2 separate regions of the Homo sapiens genome follow, and region 1 is linked to region 2. The links come from fine-mapping of genetic effects on gene expression. A gene starts in region 2. The other region holds a variant in brackets. All regions are shown on one strand. Distances are from middle to middle.

Evidence for each region. PIP is the estimated chance that this variant, and not a neighbour inherited with it, causes the effect.
Region 1: its variant is fine-mapped to the expression of PDIA3 in whole blood (INTERVAL, PIP above 0.99).

Annotation. Positions count from the first base shown.
Region 1 is chr15:44,524,097-44,532,378 of GRCh38, forward strand. CTDSPL2 (CTD small phosphatase like 2) reads left to right here. Exons shown (of 13, transcript NM_016396.3): 13 at 13-4,942. The coding sequence ends at 78. Among named protein-coding and RNA genes, the nearest start is that of EIF3J-DT, 8.7 kb to the right of the region's middle. The variant A/G (reference allele first, on the strand shown) is at 4,482.
Region 2 is chr15:43,741,942-43,750,276 of GRCh38, forward strand. PDIA3 (protein disulfide isomerase family A member 3) reads left to right here and starts at 4,497. Exons shown (of 13, transcript NM_005313.5): 1 at 4,497-4,765. The coding sequence starts at 4,599. It also overlaps the pseudogene CATSPER2P1. RefSeq lists a silencer at 4,213-4,512 and enhancers at 5,013-5,062, 5,073-5,122.

The sequences.
Region 1 (8,282 bases), 780 kb after region 2:
TTTTCCACGCAGAATGAAGATGTTCGACCACACATCAGAGACAGATTTCGCTTGCATGATTTGCTGCCCCCAGATTAAGTACAAAGACTTGTCAAATCACTGAAGGGGGAGAGAATGCAGGACCCTTTTGGACTAAGACAAAAACATTGCCATTACTGTTGAAATTTTGCATTTTTGTACCCCGTCTTGCTTTTCTTATCTTTGGTGCCCAATAATAATTAAGGGTTACAGAAAGAGACTTTATCTATCTCAGATCGAATACATATAGTAGGTAGGCTAAAACAGAAGAGTCTTTAGAACTAGTGCAACTCCAGTGAAATTTTTTATGTACAGGACATCTGCAGTTTATAAAGAATTCTGTTTCTGCCACCAGCAGTTTGACCTGTAGTCACACAGGATTTTATGATAATAACAGAGATGAAAATGGACTTTTATTTTCTCTCTGTTTGGTGCTCTAAGTGGGTTTGTAGCCACTTTTCTGTTACTTTATGATTCTCATTTCAACAGGAATGGCCAGTAAAAGTTGTTTTATTTTTCCTGTTAAGGTTTATAACCTTTTTACATTTTTGACCTGTATTAGATTAGAATTTCATTATGCATTCCTTTTAGTTGAGGCGCTTCATAGTTTTCTGGAGATAGTCAATTTTTAGTTTTTTATTATACATTTGAATGGCCGTTTTCCTGCTTTGTCTGCCTGCACATTGTATATTTGTTTAAAAATATTCTCTACTTTTAGTCTATGTAAGTTTCATTTAGAAAGACATGCATTTATATTTTGTTTCTGTAATATTCTACTGTAGGTGAAATCTTTTCAAAAATCAAGAGACTGGGTAGATAAGAATATATGAATGACTAATATACAAAAGATTTAAACCATTGTGATGGCGTATATTCTCAAATGGTAATATCTTGCAATGGCACACAGATTTAATGGATAAAGGTATACCTCAGACTTCACTGTGCTCACAAATCTTTGAGGAGAAAGTTTGGTCACCTGTTTGGCTTGATTTAGTTACTGCTGCCTTTGGTTTTCTCCAGGAATGAAGTATTCAGCACAGTGACTCAGTATTTTTAGTTATTTTGCATGGGCTGGTAGTACCTCTGTTATGCTCTCAGTTACAATCAATTTAAAACTGTATAACAGTCTTGGTACCTAACAGTAGCTATGCATAATCCTGTGGCACAGTACACTCCCAAGCCACCAATGCAGTTAATATGCTCTCATAGTGGTTTTTCTATGCTATATGAAAATAGTCTTCAAGCCTTGGTTCTCTAATGCAGCTACCACAAGAGGTTGATATTTTTATAGTGGCGTGTAATCTCCTTTTCGGGAGGCTTTTTATGGAAGGTAGAATTTGTAAAAGTTCGTATGCTTTGCCTCTCAACTGCATTAACATGCCACAGGCTCAGACTGTTTTTGTGTAAAGGATGTCAAAGAACGGCACTTTTTCTAAAGAGAAGTTTGATATTTTGTATGCTTGTTAAGAAAGTACAGTATTGGAAATTAAAGGTGGACAACTGATAATTGAGGAGTATGTCAATTAATTTTTTATGTATATTACCTGTTTACTTGTACAACTTACTGTACAAATTACATGCAGCTTCATTTTCAAATGAATCCTTAAAATAAGGAAATCTTTTTAGGAAAACATTTAATTTTTGTATTTTTGATTTTAAAGGCATGAGTTATGTCAATTTTCAGTGTATTAATGAAGATTTTAACTTTTCATCAGGTTGAGTGTTTTCTTACTATATTATCTGTTGTGTATGTAGTTAGCATATTGTGTCACTGAACTGTTTAAAAATCTAGCATGTAGAGCAAGCCTGTTTTGTGGAAAATCCTTATTCATTAAAAAAATAATCATGGCAGATTTTCTGCAAAAAAAAAACAAAAGCATTTGCAATTCAGAATACTGATTTTTTTAATTTTATTTAAAGAAAGGTATTTTGCTTGCAGGAAAAAAATACTACAGATTCATTTTAATGAGAATCTTTGAAATGTATTTATCTTTAGGGCATCTGGGCATCTTTATGCTGTTTGTCTTCTGTCTTTCTTGAAATAAAATGTACATACGTTACCTTTACATATGCTCTTGCTCAAAATTGTGAACCTAGTTACATTTCTCCCTGCTCCCTTCCTTTTTATGCTCAAACAGCGAAACCCAAAACTTAAAAGATCTGAACTTTCAGCATGCATTCTGATTGCTGAAAGATTTCCTGATTTAGTGCATTCTCAAAAGGGCTTTCCCATAATCTAAAGGGAAATGTAAGCACCTATACTCTTGTGCCTGTGGGCACTTCAATAATAAAAACCAACTTTTTAAACTAATCATCTTTTATCAATGATAAAGTTGTTTTCAGTCCCACACTAGGAGAGTTCCTTTAAGTCAGCTGATCAAGCATAAGATACTTCCGTAAAGAAATAAACTAAGAAAATTTTTTATGGCTTGAGAAAATTCCTTGAGGCCAAATTAATATATTTTTCTTTGTTATTTTATTTGAGTCATTTTAAATTTGTTAATACAAAATTTAAGATAATTTACAGAGACAATTTATCCAGCTTCCTTCTACCTTAATACAATGTTTTGTCTTCCCATTATCCTCTCTTTTCTTTATCTGTTGGTAGATGTAAAAAACTTCCATTTAGTTAATCGGAGGTGTGTATTTTTTAAATTGAAATGTGCCCAGCCCCTTCAGCTCACACAGGAAACATGAACTCTTAAAAAACTGACTAGTAAATGCAGGAGAGGTGGATACCTGATGAGACACAGCGAAAGTGACCTGTATACACATTACAACTCTGGAGTACATATTAAAGTCGTGCTATTTCCAGTGGTAAATGTCTGACTTTTAAGACATTCTTTTAAATATTTGTATCATTGTTAGGATGTTTTAATCAGTTGTTTTTTAATTCCATGTAATATATGTAGCCCTCATCAGATTTATATCACCATATTTCTCCTTGTGTCCTAAGAGAATTGATGACAATTCGTAACCATAAATTGTTTTATATTAGCTAGTATGTATATTTATTTTTACCCAATGGCTTTATCTGTTTCCCAAAATTTGTTTGGGATTTGTTGAAAGCATTGTGTAACTTCTATAAACGGCTATTTTCTTGTAACTGTCAGTGAAATGAATGTGTACATTGTTTTCTTGTATTTCTCTGGGTTGTTTTTTGTTTTTTTTTCCAAGGGTTAACATAGAATGTTTTTTTTAAAAAATTATCTTTGGCCAATGACTTTTTCATCTAGATCTTACTTTCATTCAACCTTCTAAAGAAGTTCGTTTCTCATTGTTTTGTTCTGTCAACTTGCCTGAAAAACAGAGACTTCATCTCATCAATGAAGAAAGCATTTCATTATTCCTACAGATCTTTCCTGCGAGCACAGAATTCTTCATAAGGACCAGATCTCTTCCATGTCTGTGTCAATCACATAAAGCTAAAATGTAAAGGACATTGAAGCCTTTATTTAATTGTACTAATATGATGGTGTTATATACTACATCATTAGCTAGTTAAGGTTTTCTGACCTGACTTCTCTTTGTCTTCCTAGGTATTTATTTGTTATCTTTTAATCTTGTGTATCTAAATTAACTTAGTTAATAGTTACCCACCGAATAACTATGCCAAGCAACTAGTAAAGAATGTTTATTTTATTTCCCCTTATAGGGGAAGAGTGGACTGGGAACAAAAATGTATGGGCCAAAAGGCCTTAGGGTTGTCATTCATTGACTTTCTTATTCCTCTCATGAGCTATAATTGAGTATAGTATTTTTTTAGTGCTGATGTCATTACTTCTCATGTCTTCCCCTGAGTTGAAAGCCTACGACAAACATGTATAAAATACATTTAAGAATTTTCAGAATATGAACCACAAAACTCAGTATCTTATATTTAAATGCTACTTAAGTTATTATTGGAATCCAAGTCTCACTAACTAGGGTACATTTTTATAAAATGTTTCTCTGTATCTTGAATTGAAATTACTTGCCCAGAGGCAAGAGTTCTGGGGATATAACATGATTTGAGATCTTTTTTAAAAAAGGGTGGGGCGGCGGGGGAGAGAGCGACAAGTTTATACTAGTTTATGCTTTTGATATTAGTATTTTAAGATACATCAGTTGATCCCGAAACCTGACCATTAGAATTACTCTGAGGAGCTTTTAAAATAGATTCCTGGAGCCTACCCCTGGAAAATTGTCTCGCTGGATCTCGAGAGGGGCCTGAGAGTTCTGGCTTTTTTTTTTTGTTTGGTTGGTTTTGTTTTGTTTTGTTTTGTTTTTTCTTTAAAGCTCTCCTGGTGATTCTAATAGCCAGTATTGGGTAATCAATGTTTTAGCTAAATGTGACACTGGTTTGAGAGTAGGCAACAAAATTAAAGTTCACCAGACATCTCTTTGTGGTAGAGTTTTTTTTTTTTTAAACTGGGACCAGATTTCACAGAGCTTATTCAAGATACATGGAGGAATAATAAAGA[A/G]GATTAAGGCTACTGCTCATTATCATTTTTGTCTTTCATATTTTTTAAGGGTTTGCATTTCTAGGACTTGGAATAGTTGACCATATACATAGCTAAAGGACATGTCCCTGAATGAGACCATTATATATATTATCTGTAAAATATTTCACTATTTTTTTATTTTATAAATCTTTGTAGAAATAAGCAATGAAATACTACTTTCATCTTTTGAAATGGGATTTTTCAAGGCAGTGTCCTTTTGGCATTAAGGTAGGGGGGAGTTAATATTCTCTCTGCCTTGTTTCCACGTGAATCAATATTAAAGTCATGGACATTTTAAAATCTCAATTTAATTTCTTCTTATTTACTATGCAGTATAGCCGTGAACAAGTAATGTAGATTTAGTTTTCTCATCTTCAAATGCCCTGATCACCCTACCTCACAGGGTTGTTGTGGGGATAAATAAAACTTTTATGGAAGCACTTCTCTTTGATGATATTTTATCAGCCATCAGAAACAATATAATTTCTAACAACATTTGTACAGTGCTTTTTTTTGTTTAGAAGCATATCTTTTTTTCACATTACTTTCCCTTTTGATGTTGAAAAACATAAAGGAAATTGAGACTTGGAGAAAGCTGTGACCCAAGACTATGCAGTTCCTCTGGGAGACTTGAATTTAGTTATCACCATAATATTCTGTTTCCTAGTGCCTTGGCATTTTGTATGATTATGTTTGTTCATGAATACAAAGCTTTCTCAAGTTTGTAAGTCTATTTAGCCAACAAAATGTTCTTATAAAATGTAAGGAATATACAGTGGTACAAACTAGACCTATAGGTAATAATTCATTTTAAACTAGAAGGAAATTTCAAGTTCTAGGTGTACTCTATTTTAGTGTTTTCCCAAGATCACAGAGCTAGGACTAGAATGTAAGTCTCTTAATTACCGTTACAGTAATGATTTTGGAAGGGCATTCTTTATTGCTGGAACTACTGTGAGCAGAGGTGAAAAACACTTGAAGATACCAACCAGAATTAAAAGGGGTTGGTTTTGAAAAGGAGAGAGAAGATGGCAAGAGTGAACCAGATTATAGTGCGCTAAGATGAGGAATATACTCGATGTATGGGCTAAAATAATGAGCCAGTATCACTATAGCATAGTAGCACTCTGGTCCCACACTAGTTTCTGTGATGAGACTTTGTGATAGCTATTTTCCCTAAGCTCCAAAGGAGTTTGAGGCGCACACAGTTTTGAAAGCCACTGCAATAATCCTTGAGAAATAAGTGATTGCACTATAACATTCTATTCAGGCAGATAGTTGACTTGAGAGCATGGTCAATGAAAGCATGAAGTTCAGAATCAAATTTGAGTTCAAGTCCCTGAAAACCCAGCCACTTAATAAGCAAGAGGGTTGTTACCTACCTTTCAGAATTATAAGGATCAAATGAAATGTCAAAACATGTTATAAGCCGTAAGCAATATACAAGTAACATGAGGATGGAGATGTTAAAGCAGGTAGTTTTCTGAAGGAGGGATGAGAACTATATACCAGGTTTTGAGAGATGTCTGAAGCCAGAAAGCAGGAATGTGCAGTAGGATCAGGATATTGTAATACCACAGGACCACAGATGTCAGGGAGGGTTTTTAAGAAAGACAGCAGTGGGTTGCATTTTTTAAAAGACCTGTTAGGCCGGGTGCAGTGGCTCACGCCTATTATTCCAGCACTTTGGGAGGCTGAAGTGGGCAGATAATTGAGGTCAGGAGTTGAGACCAGCCTGGACAACATGGTGAAACCCCCGTCTCTTCTAAAAATACAAAAATTAGCCAGGTATCGTAGTGCACGCCTGTAGTCCCAGCTACTTGGAAGGCTGAGGCAGGAGAATCGCTTGAACCAGAGAGGCAGAGGTTGCAGTGAACCGAGATTGTGCCACTGCACTCCAGCCTCGGTGACAGAGACTCTATCTCAAAAAATAAAAAATAAAAACCACTACGTGTTAGGCACCATGCCAGGCTCTGTGAATGGTAGAAGGTGGCAAAACAGACAATGCCTTAAAATCTTAAGCTTAAAATCTACCAGTAGAGAAAGTCAAGATCCTTTTATTGGTTAAAGGGCTAAAGCTAGGCTTGGCTGTGGGGAGAGGAGGCTCAGGGGAGTAAATGATCAGGTGCGTATTTTAAAAGATCGCTTTGGAAATAGAGTGGGTGGGTGGGAGGCCAGTTAGCAGTTATATAACTCTCCATGTAAAGTATTCCCTTTCTCTAAGTTAATGCACTGGGTGATAGCATCATAGTGGACAGTCAGGTCAGAAGATTGTTAAGGTTCTGGGGAGAGTATGGCTTGTGTGGCTTACTGAGAGCTTACTAATCATGTGGATTTTAGGCACTCCCTGAGGAAGGCATGTTTTTTCCGCTGGCCAGACAGGAATAGGAAGGTACTGTAGGATTTTATGGTACCCTGTAAGTATGGAAAAATATATGGAAGTTGAATGGAGACAGTTTCGTGTCTTAAGACTCATGGGGGTAGGGTTTTGGTTTTTCGTTTTGGTTTAAAATAAAAAATTTCATTTAACTTAATCAAATCATATAAATCAAAAACTTTATTTATTTAATTATTGAGATGTAATCTTGCTCTGTTGTCCAGGCTGGAGTGCAGTGGTGGGATCTCAGCTCCCTGCAACCTCTGCCTCCCGGGTTCCAGCGATTCTCCCGCCTCAGCCTCCCTAGTAGCTGGGACTACAGGCGTGCACCATGATGCTCAGCCAATTTTTGTATTTTTAGTAGAGACAGGGTTTCACCATGTTGGCCAGGCTGGGCTCAAACTCCTGACCTCAAGTGATCCACCCGCCTGCCTTGGCCTCCCAAAGTTCTGGGATTACAGGCATGAGCCACTGTGCTCTGCCAAAATTTGTTTTTACATGTACTCTTTTTCCCAAGAAATCATTAGAAAAAACATGCAATGACTCCATAATTTTGCACTTTTATAAATAGGAGTTTTGACCTGCCCCTATTTCCAATTAAAACAATCTGCTCTTCAGCCTTAACCTAGTCCATCTTTATAAGATTTTGAGTCTGATGCTTAAGGTACTTCCTCTTAAAAAGAAGCTATAAAGGGGCCGGGCGCATGGCTCACACCTGTAATCCTAGCACTTTGGAAGGCCGAGGCGGGCGGATCACGAGGTCAGGAGATCAAGACCACGGTGAAACCCCGTCTCTACTAAAAATACAAAAAAAATTAGCCGGGCGCGGTGGCGGGCACCTGTAGCCCCAGCTACTCGGGAGGCTGAGGCAGGAGAATGGCGTGAACCCAGGAGGCGGATCTTGCAGTGAGCCGAGATTGTGCCACTGCACTCCAGCCTGGGTAACAGAGCGAGAGTCCATCTCAAAAAAAAAAAAAAAAAAAAAAAAAAAGAACTCTAAGGCCAGGCACAATGGCTCACACCTGTAATCCCTGCACTTTGGGAGGCTGAGGCGGGGGGATCACCTGAGGTTAGGAGTTCGAGACCAGCCTGGCCAACACGATGAAACCCATCTCTACTAAAACTACAAAAAATTATCTGGGCATGGTGGCACACACTTGTAATCCCAGCTGCTCAGGAGGCTGAGGCAGGAGAATCACTGGAACCTGGGAGGCAGAGGTTGCCGTGAGCAGAGATTGCGCCAGCCTGGGCAACGAGAGCAAAATGTCATCTCAAAAAAAAGAACCTATAAGTAGCTCTGCTTCATTTGTGTTGTTTATTTACTCTTCTATAGCTTCAATGATGAAACTTTTTTTTTTTTTTTGACATGAAGTCTCACTCTGTTACTTAGTCTGGAGTGCAGT
Region 2 (8,335 bases):
GATCCTCCCACCTCAGCCTACTGAGTAGCTGGGACTACAGGCATGTGCCACCACACCTAGCTAATTTTTGTATTTTTTGTAGAGATGAGGTTTCTCCACATTGGCCAGACTGGTCTCAAACTCCTGAGCTCAAGCAATCCTCCTGCCTCAGCCTCCCAAAGTGCTGGGATTACAGGCATGAGCCACCATGCCTGGGCCCCAGAGATAAGCTTGTAGGGGACTTGGAGCTAGAGGCAGAGTTCTGAACTGGCTACCGGCACTGGACACTTCTGTTGAGGAAAATATCTGTGTGACATAAACAGCCAAGAGCTTCATAACTACGCCCTTCTCTTAAAAATTCCTCCTAGGCTGGACGTGGTAACTCATGCCTGTAATCCCAGCACTTTGGGAGGCTGAGGTATGAGGATCACTTAAGCCCAGGAGTTCAAGACCAGCCTGGACAACATAGTGAGACCCTGTCTCTACAAAAAAAAAATCAACATAATTAGCTTGGTGTAGTGGCATGCACCTGTAGTCCAAGCTACTCAGGAGGCTGACGTGGGAGGATCAATAGAGCTCTGGAGGTTGAGGATGCAGCGAGCCATGATCACACCACTATACTCCAACCTAAGTAACAAAGTGAGACTCTGTCACTAAAAAATAAAGTGGGAGACTTCTCTACAACAGTGAGAATGAAACAAGTGAGTAGTTCTACTGTCCTTTCATCATTTCTGAGCAGTTTGAGATTATCAACAAATGAGCTCACTGATTTTGCAGACATCCTTATGTTTTGAATATGTTTCATATAATTTATTATTGGTTTAAGAATCATTTCCTTTTAAGTAATTTTTTTGGCTCAGCTAATATCTTAGTGGTACCTACCTTTCCATACTTTGTGAGCTTTCTTATTTTTACTTGAATAATATTTCTAAATATACTTGTAAAAATGTAAATGTTAGGCTGGGCGCAGTGGCTCACCCCTGTAATCCCAGCACTCTGGGAGGCCGAGGCGGGTGGATCACGAGGTCAGGAGATTGAGACCATCCTGGCTAACACGGTGAAACCCCGTCTCTACTAAAAAATACAAAAAATTAGCTGGGCGTGGTGGCGGGCACCTGTAGTCCCAGCTACTTCGGAGGCTGAGGCAGGAGAATGGCGTGAACCTGGGAGGCTGAGCTTGTGGTGAGCCAAGATCGTGCCACTGCACTCCAGCCTGGGCGACCGAGTGAAACTCCGTCTCAAAAAAAAAAAAAATGTAAATGTTAGATCATTCACCGATAGGCACCAATATCTTTAACAGAAAAGGTTAATGCAAACAATTGTCAGCCTAAACTGACAACAGAAATAAAACTGGTCTTCCCAAGTTCAATTCCTTGTGGATTTGTTACATTGCTACATATTACACCTAGTTTTATGTGTCTAGATGCTCTGTATCTAGTATACGCTTGAGAGCCCTCCAAATATTAATATTTCTTTTTTTTTTTTTTGAGATCAGGTGCAGTGGCGTGATTTCGGCTTACTGCAACCTCCGCCTCCCAGGATCAAGTGTTATTCTGCCACAGCCTCCTGAGTAGCTGGGATTACAGGTGTCCGCCACCACGCCCAGCTAATTTTTTGTATTTTTAGTAGAGATGGGATTTCGCCATGTTGGCTAGGCTGGTCTTGAATTCCTGACCTCAAGTGATTCAACCACCTCGGCCTCCCAAAGTGCTGAGATTACAGGTGTGAGCTACCGTGCCCAGCGAATATTTCTAGATTTTAGCAGTTGCATAAATTCTACTCCAGGAGGCTTAATTGTCCTTAATATAAATGTCACATTTCAAATGACATTCAAAAATGTAAAATGATCAATTTAGAAAAAAAAAATTACTCCTACCCACTTCCTCTTTTTCTTTTTCTTTTTTTTTTTTTTTTGAGACAGAGTTGTACTCTGTCGCCCAGGCTGAAATGCAGTGGCACAATCTCAGCTCACTGAAACCTACGCCTCCTGGGTTCAAGCGATTCTCCTGCCTCAGCCTCCCGAGTAGCTGGGACTACAGGCCATGCCACCACGCCCAGCTAATTTTTTGTATTTTTTAGTAGAAACAGGGTTTCACCATGTTGCCCAGGCTGGTCTTGAACTCCTGAGCTTTGGCAATCCGCCTGCCTCGGCCTCCCACAGTGCTAGGATTACACGTGTGAGCCGCCGCGCCTGGCCTCACTTCCTCTTTCATACAATGTCAGTTCTCACGTATTTCAACCATCAGTACGATCGTATTCAAAAAGATCAGGAAGATGATGAAGTTTTTGAAGAGAGGACCTGTTGTCTCTTAAGGAAACATACAGAGTGGAGTTCTTTCTGATTTATGCAGCTGAAATAATAAGAGCAATAACATAAGCAGTGAGAATGAGACAATGGAGTTTGGGAAGCAAAAAATAAGTCATTAGGCAGATGATCAACAGCCAGGATAAAAATGAGTGACATGAAAGGATACACTCAAGGACCCATCCGGCCCACAAAGAAAGAGGTGGCCTCTGACTGCAGCGCACATGAAGCCTGCTCAACAGCCTCTGGGCATGTGAAATCTGTTCTATACGTTGAGGCTTTATAGAGACGCCCACTAGCTGGTGTTGATCTCCCAACATAAGTTTCTTCTGGCGGGAAGGATCTACAACAAAAATTGAAAAGGGGTAGTGGATAAATACAAACAAAATAGACCAGGTAGGGTTGGGGGCAGGGATACTGTTCAGATAATGGGTCCCCCTAATGGCTTACTGCTGGTCCTTCTCTTCTCACAGCAACTAAGAATTCTGTTTGGAGTGAGAGCAAATGTATTGCTTATGACCAACACTGTCCATGCCCACAAAAGCAGCAGGTTCACTCTCAAAGTTTTAAGAGTCTTTGACAGAAACTGTTCCGTATCATCCACGGCTAGTGGCTATCCTAGGCCTAAAAGTGAAAGACGTGGATTCTATCTCCTTAGTTTTATTTACAAGCCCTTGATTTATCAAGTTTGGTAAACCAGCAACTAAACCGGCCTCCCCAGAATTTTCCACTCTTAAATGTAGAGGATGTGGATAGGAGTCTTAAATTTAAATTAGTGAAGAAATAGGCTGCTGACCAAGTAACTCCTGATAGTGTGTCGCAGCACAGCTTGGCTCAAGCCTTGCAAATGCTCGATGAGAGAGAAAGTATCGATGAGACGTGAACGAATGGCATCAGCTCGGGGAAGCTGCATCTGCCCTTCTTGTTGGTAAGCGGCCATGTCTGCTAAGAAAATGTAAGCATCAAGTGTCATTTCATTCTTGGAGCTGCACCAAGGATTACAGGTTTTCTGTCCCCTCCTCCCCACCCTCTTTGCCCTTAAGATTCCTTAATGTACCCACATCTACGAACTAGGAGCAGTTGGGCAGAACAAACATTCTACTAAGACTCAGGGTTTTTTGAAACAAAAGGGGCTAAGAGTGGTAAAGACATTGAGCAGTCGACCAAGTGGCCAGGCATCTTCACTTTGTGACGGCACTACCAATTAAAAGCTCATTAAAAAAAAAAAAAAAAAAAAAAAAAGTCCGGGCGTGGTGGCTCACGCCTGTAATTCCAGCACTTTGGAATGCCGAGGCGAGCGGATCACGAGGTCAGGAGATAGAGACCATCCTGGCTAACACGGTGAAACCCGGTCTCTACTAAAAATACAAAAAATTAGCCGGGCGTGGTGGCGGGCGCCTGTAGGCCCAGCTACTCGGGAAGCTGAGGCAGGAGAATGGCGTGAACCCGGGAGGCAGAGCTTGCAGTGAGCGGAGATCGCGCCACTGCACTCCAGCGTGGGGGACAGAGCAAGACGGCATCTCAGACAAAACAAAACAAAACAAAACAAGAAACTCAATAAAAAAGGAGCAGCCACAAGGGCAGGGGCCCGGGGCTGGACAAAGAAGAACCTGGGTCCCACCTGGGCCTGAGAGAATCGGGCAATGAGGTGGAGTTGGGGGAGGGCTTGGCCTGCCCACGCAAGAGAAACCAAGTGAAGAGAAATTGGACAAAATGCCAAAGCCTGACATTTTGAAAATGGGTCCCGTCCCAAGTGTGTCCACTCCAACACTCCTTCGGGGGCTAGCTCCTTCTCTCCTCCATTCTCGCTTCTGGGCCTCACCTCAGCCCAGGTTCTCTTCGCCCACTCAGTCCTGACTTCACGCTTCCACCTCCAGCTCAGGCGCCCCCTGAGCCCGGCTACCCCTACGCAGGACGAGCTCAGGGCCGGCTCCCAGCCTCACTGCGCCCCATTTCCCGCCCCGCCCGACCCCCAGGTTTCGGCTCACCCCGGGACCCGGCCCTAGCCCCTGCCCCCAGCCCAGGACCGGGCCCAGCCACGCTCGCCCAGACACTCGCCGCCTCGGCCCCGCCCCGCGCTCCGGCCACTCGGCGGTAACGAGTTGGTCCCGCCCGCCCGACGAAGGCGACGCGCAGCCAATCAGCGGCTGCCACACAGCGGCCCAAGCCGGGTTTGGGGGTTGGGACCTCCGGCTGCAGGTCCGCCTGGGCCAGACGCGCGAGCGCAAGCAGCGGGTTAGTGGTCGCGCGCCCGACCTCCGCAGTCCCAGCCGAGCCGCGACCCTTCCGGCCGTCCCCACCCCACCTCGCCGCCATGCGCCTCCGCCGCCTAGCGCTGTTCCCGGGTGTGGCGCTGCTTCTTGCCGCGGCCCGCCTCGCCGCTGCCTCCGACGTGCTAGAACTCACGGACGACAACTTCGAGAGTCGCATCTCCGACACGGGCTCTGCGGGCCTCATGCTCGTCGAGTTCTTCGCCCCCTGGTGAGTCCATTCTGCCGAGGCGGGGGAAGAAAGGCGGGGCTGGGCCGGGGGCGAGAGCGCGGGGAACTGTTGGGCCTACGCAGCGCCGGGGCCCTTCATTCCTGTGGGCCCCTGCTGCGGCGGGCACATTTCTCATTCCCGGGAGCTGGAGGCGCCTCGCCGAGAGCGGGGGAGTCGGTGCTGATCGGCCCAAGGAAAACCCGAAGGCTGCGCTCACGCAGGGCCTCATCCTTATCTCGGTGCTCTTGTGGCACTTCCTATTTGCAGAGGGTTTTGCCACCCCTTCCCCCAGTCCAATATGTAGCTATATCTTTTCTGCGTGAGTCAGTATTAATGCTCCTCCAGTCTACAGACTAGGCATCCCAAAGCCTTGTAGTGGAAGCGGACGTTTCACCAAATGCAGAAGTCCTGGATCCCTAGGGTATTTCCTTTCATCTTACCTCACGCCGCACAGCCATTGGTTTCTAGCCAAGGTCACTGAGTGGCTGCAGAATGGTCGTAAGTGCTTTCTTGAGGCAGGTAATTTGTCCGTCACATGGTGTACAGTTTCTCCCTTCAGCTGATCACTTACATCTCAGTACCGGCAGATACCTCTGTCCAAACGAAAGGAGTACGTGAACAAGAATAATTCCATCAGAATCTGTCCATATTGTCTGTTTTAAATAGCATTTCTTTAAAATGTCAAAAAAGACTCCAATGAGAAAATAACCAATATTGATTACATACTCCACTTTAGGGTGACTTAAGTGATCAAGGGTGTAAATTCCTTAGATAGAACTAACTCGAAATAAAAAACTGTTGGGGAGAAGGAAGAGCAAATAAGATTTCTGGCCCAGTCAACTTGAGTGTTTGTTTTTTTTTTTTATTTGTGTGTGTGTGTGTTTTTAAACCTCCAGATCATTACCAGAGTAAACAGTGATTCCTTTATCCTGGGGATAGCTCTCTATATATAATTCAATATATATAATTACAGTACTTAATTTTTCCCCTCCTGGCACAGTGACCCTTGGTTTAATACTATCCGTGTTCAAAAATGTCAGTAAAAGTTGTGTATAACTTTTATTTGCTTCAGACTCAGGTCTTCCCTTCTTAGCCTCAAACAACTTGCTAAGGGTTACACGAAAAAAGTCCTGTAGTAAAGACCACCTGAATCAGAATGATGTGCTAGAGATGGCAAATTTTGTTTGCAGCTTGGACAGATTTTGTGTCCAGGGCATTTCTGGGGCTAACTGGCAGTACAGATTACACATATAGATAGTTCTTATACATCTCTGGAACTCATGTTCTCTCTTAGGAACAACTCTTCCCAATTATATAATCATGCTGTTAGCTTTGAGGGGGTGTCAATAATTTGTAAAAACTGGGGGTGTCACTAAGTTTGTCAGATCTGAGTGATGCTTTTTACTACAGGGGTCATGCAACAATTTAAAGTAGGAATTGTTGGAGAATAGTGGGCCACTAGAATATTAGTTTAAAAAAGGAATTTTGGGGCTGGGCATGGTGGCTCCCGCCTGTAATCCCAGCACTTTGGGAGGCCGAGGCAGGCGGATCACCTGAGGTCGGGAGTTCAAGACCAGTCTGACCATCATGGAGAAACCCCCGTCTCTACTAAAAATACGAAATTAGCCGGGCATAGTGGCACATGCCTGTAATCCCAGCTACTCAGGAAGCTGAGGCAGGAGAATAGCTTGAACCCAGGAAGCAGAGGCTGCAGTGAGCCACGATCCTGCCATTGCACTCCAGCCTGGGCAACAAGAGCGAAACTCTGTCTCAAAAAAAAAAACCAGAATTTTTTATTTGAATTGAAGGGGGTGTTTCCTACTTTAAATTGTTACACGTGCTACCCTAAAAACTACATATCCCATCAGGCACTGACTGTCCCAAGAATTGGGTGGATCTCTGCTGTGGTGTCTGCTTTTAATTGGTTTAAAAGAAAAAGTCATCCTCCACAATTTCAGCAAGAAAGATGAGTTTTCTGAATGAGCAATTTGGAGTTAAAGAAGTCTCCTGTTGAGGTCTTTATTTCTTCACATTCCACTACATTTTTTTTGTGTGTGTGTTTGTGTATTTTTTTTTTTTTGAGATGGAGTCTCGCTTTGTTGCCCAGGCTAGAGTGCCATGGCACTATCTTGACTCACTGCAACCTCCGCCTCTTGGGTTCAAGTGATTCCCCTGCCTCAGCCTCCCGAGTAGCTGGGATTACAGGTGCCTGCCACAATGCCCAGCTAATTTTTTTGTATTTTTAATAGAGACAGGGTTTCACCATGTTGGCCAGGCTGGTCTCGAACTCCTGACTTCAGGTGATCTGCCCACCTTGGCCTCCCAAAATGCTGGGATTACTGGCATGAGCCACTGCACCCAGCCTGTTTTTTTGTTTTTGTTTTGTTTTGTTTTGTTTTGTTTTTGAGACAGAGTCTTGCTCTGTTACCCAGGCTGGAGTGCAGTGGCATGGTCTGGGCTCACTGCAACCTCCGCCTCCCGTGTTCAAGTGATTCTCCTGCCTCAGCCTCCTGAGTAGCTGGGATTACAGGCACGCACCACCAAGCCCGGCTAATTTTTGTATTTTAGTAGAGACGGGGTTTCACCATGTTAGCCTGATGGTGAACTCCTGACCTCAGGAGATCCACCCTCCTCGGCCTCCCAAAGTGCTGGGATTACAGGCGTGCGCCACCTAGCCTGGCCTCTGTATTTTTATTTATTAACATTTCAGCTGGAAATGTTTTCTGACTGCTATATTCCTTTGTACAGTTCAGTAGTACTATCTTACAAGAAACAGTTAAAAAATCCTTAGTAAGAGTAAAATGGGGTCTGGCCCTGTTGTGCATTCCTGTAATCCCAGCAGTTTGGGAGGCCAAGGCAGGCAGATCACTTGAGATCAGGAGTTCAGACCAGCCTGGCCAACATGGGGAAACCCCATCTCTACTAAAAATACAAAAATTAGCTGGACGTGGTGGCGCACATCTGTAATCCCAGCTATTTGGGAGGCTGAGTTGGGAAAATCACTTGAACCCAGGAGGCAGTGGCGAGGTAAGAGACCAGCCTGGGCAGCATGGCCAGACCCCATCTCTACTAAAAAATGACAAAAATTAACCGGGCATGGTAGCACACGCCTGTAGTCCTAGCTACTCAGGAGGCTGAGGTGGGAGGAGAAGATCACTTGAGCCTGGGAGGTGGAGGTTGCAGGAAGCTGAGATTGCACCATTGCACTCCAGCCTAAATGACAGTGTGAGACCATCTCAAAAAAGAAAGTAAAATGGGCTTTTTTTTTTTTAACCTTATTCTCGTCACAAAATAGACCTATTTAAGCAAATTCTTTTTCCGCTTTCATGTTTCAAGTGAAAGTGAAAGGTGAAAGCTTGCTTTGCTTGCTTTTTTTTTTTTTGAGACAGTCTCTCTCTGTTGCCAAGGCTGGAGTGCAGTGGCGCGATCCCGGCTCTGCAACCTCCGCCTCCCCTGTCTGGCTAATTTTTTTTTTTTTTTTTTTTTTTAAGTAGAGACCAGGTTTCACCATGTTGGCCAGGCTGGTCTTGAACTCCTGACTTCACCTGAATCACCTGCGTTGGACTCCCA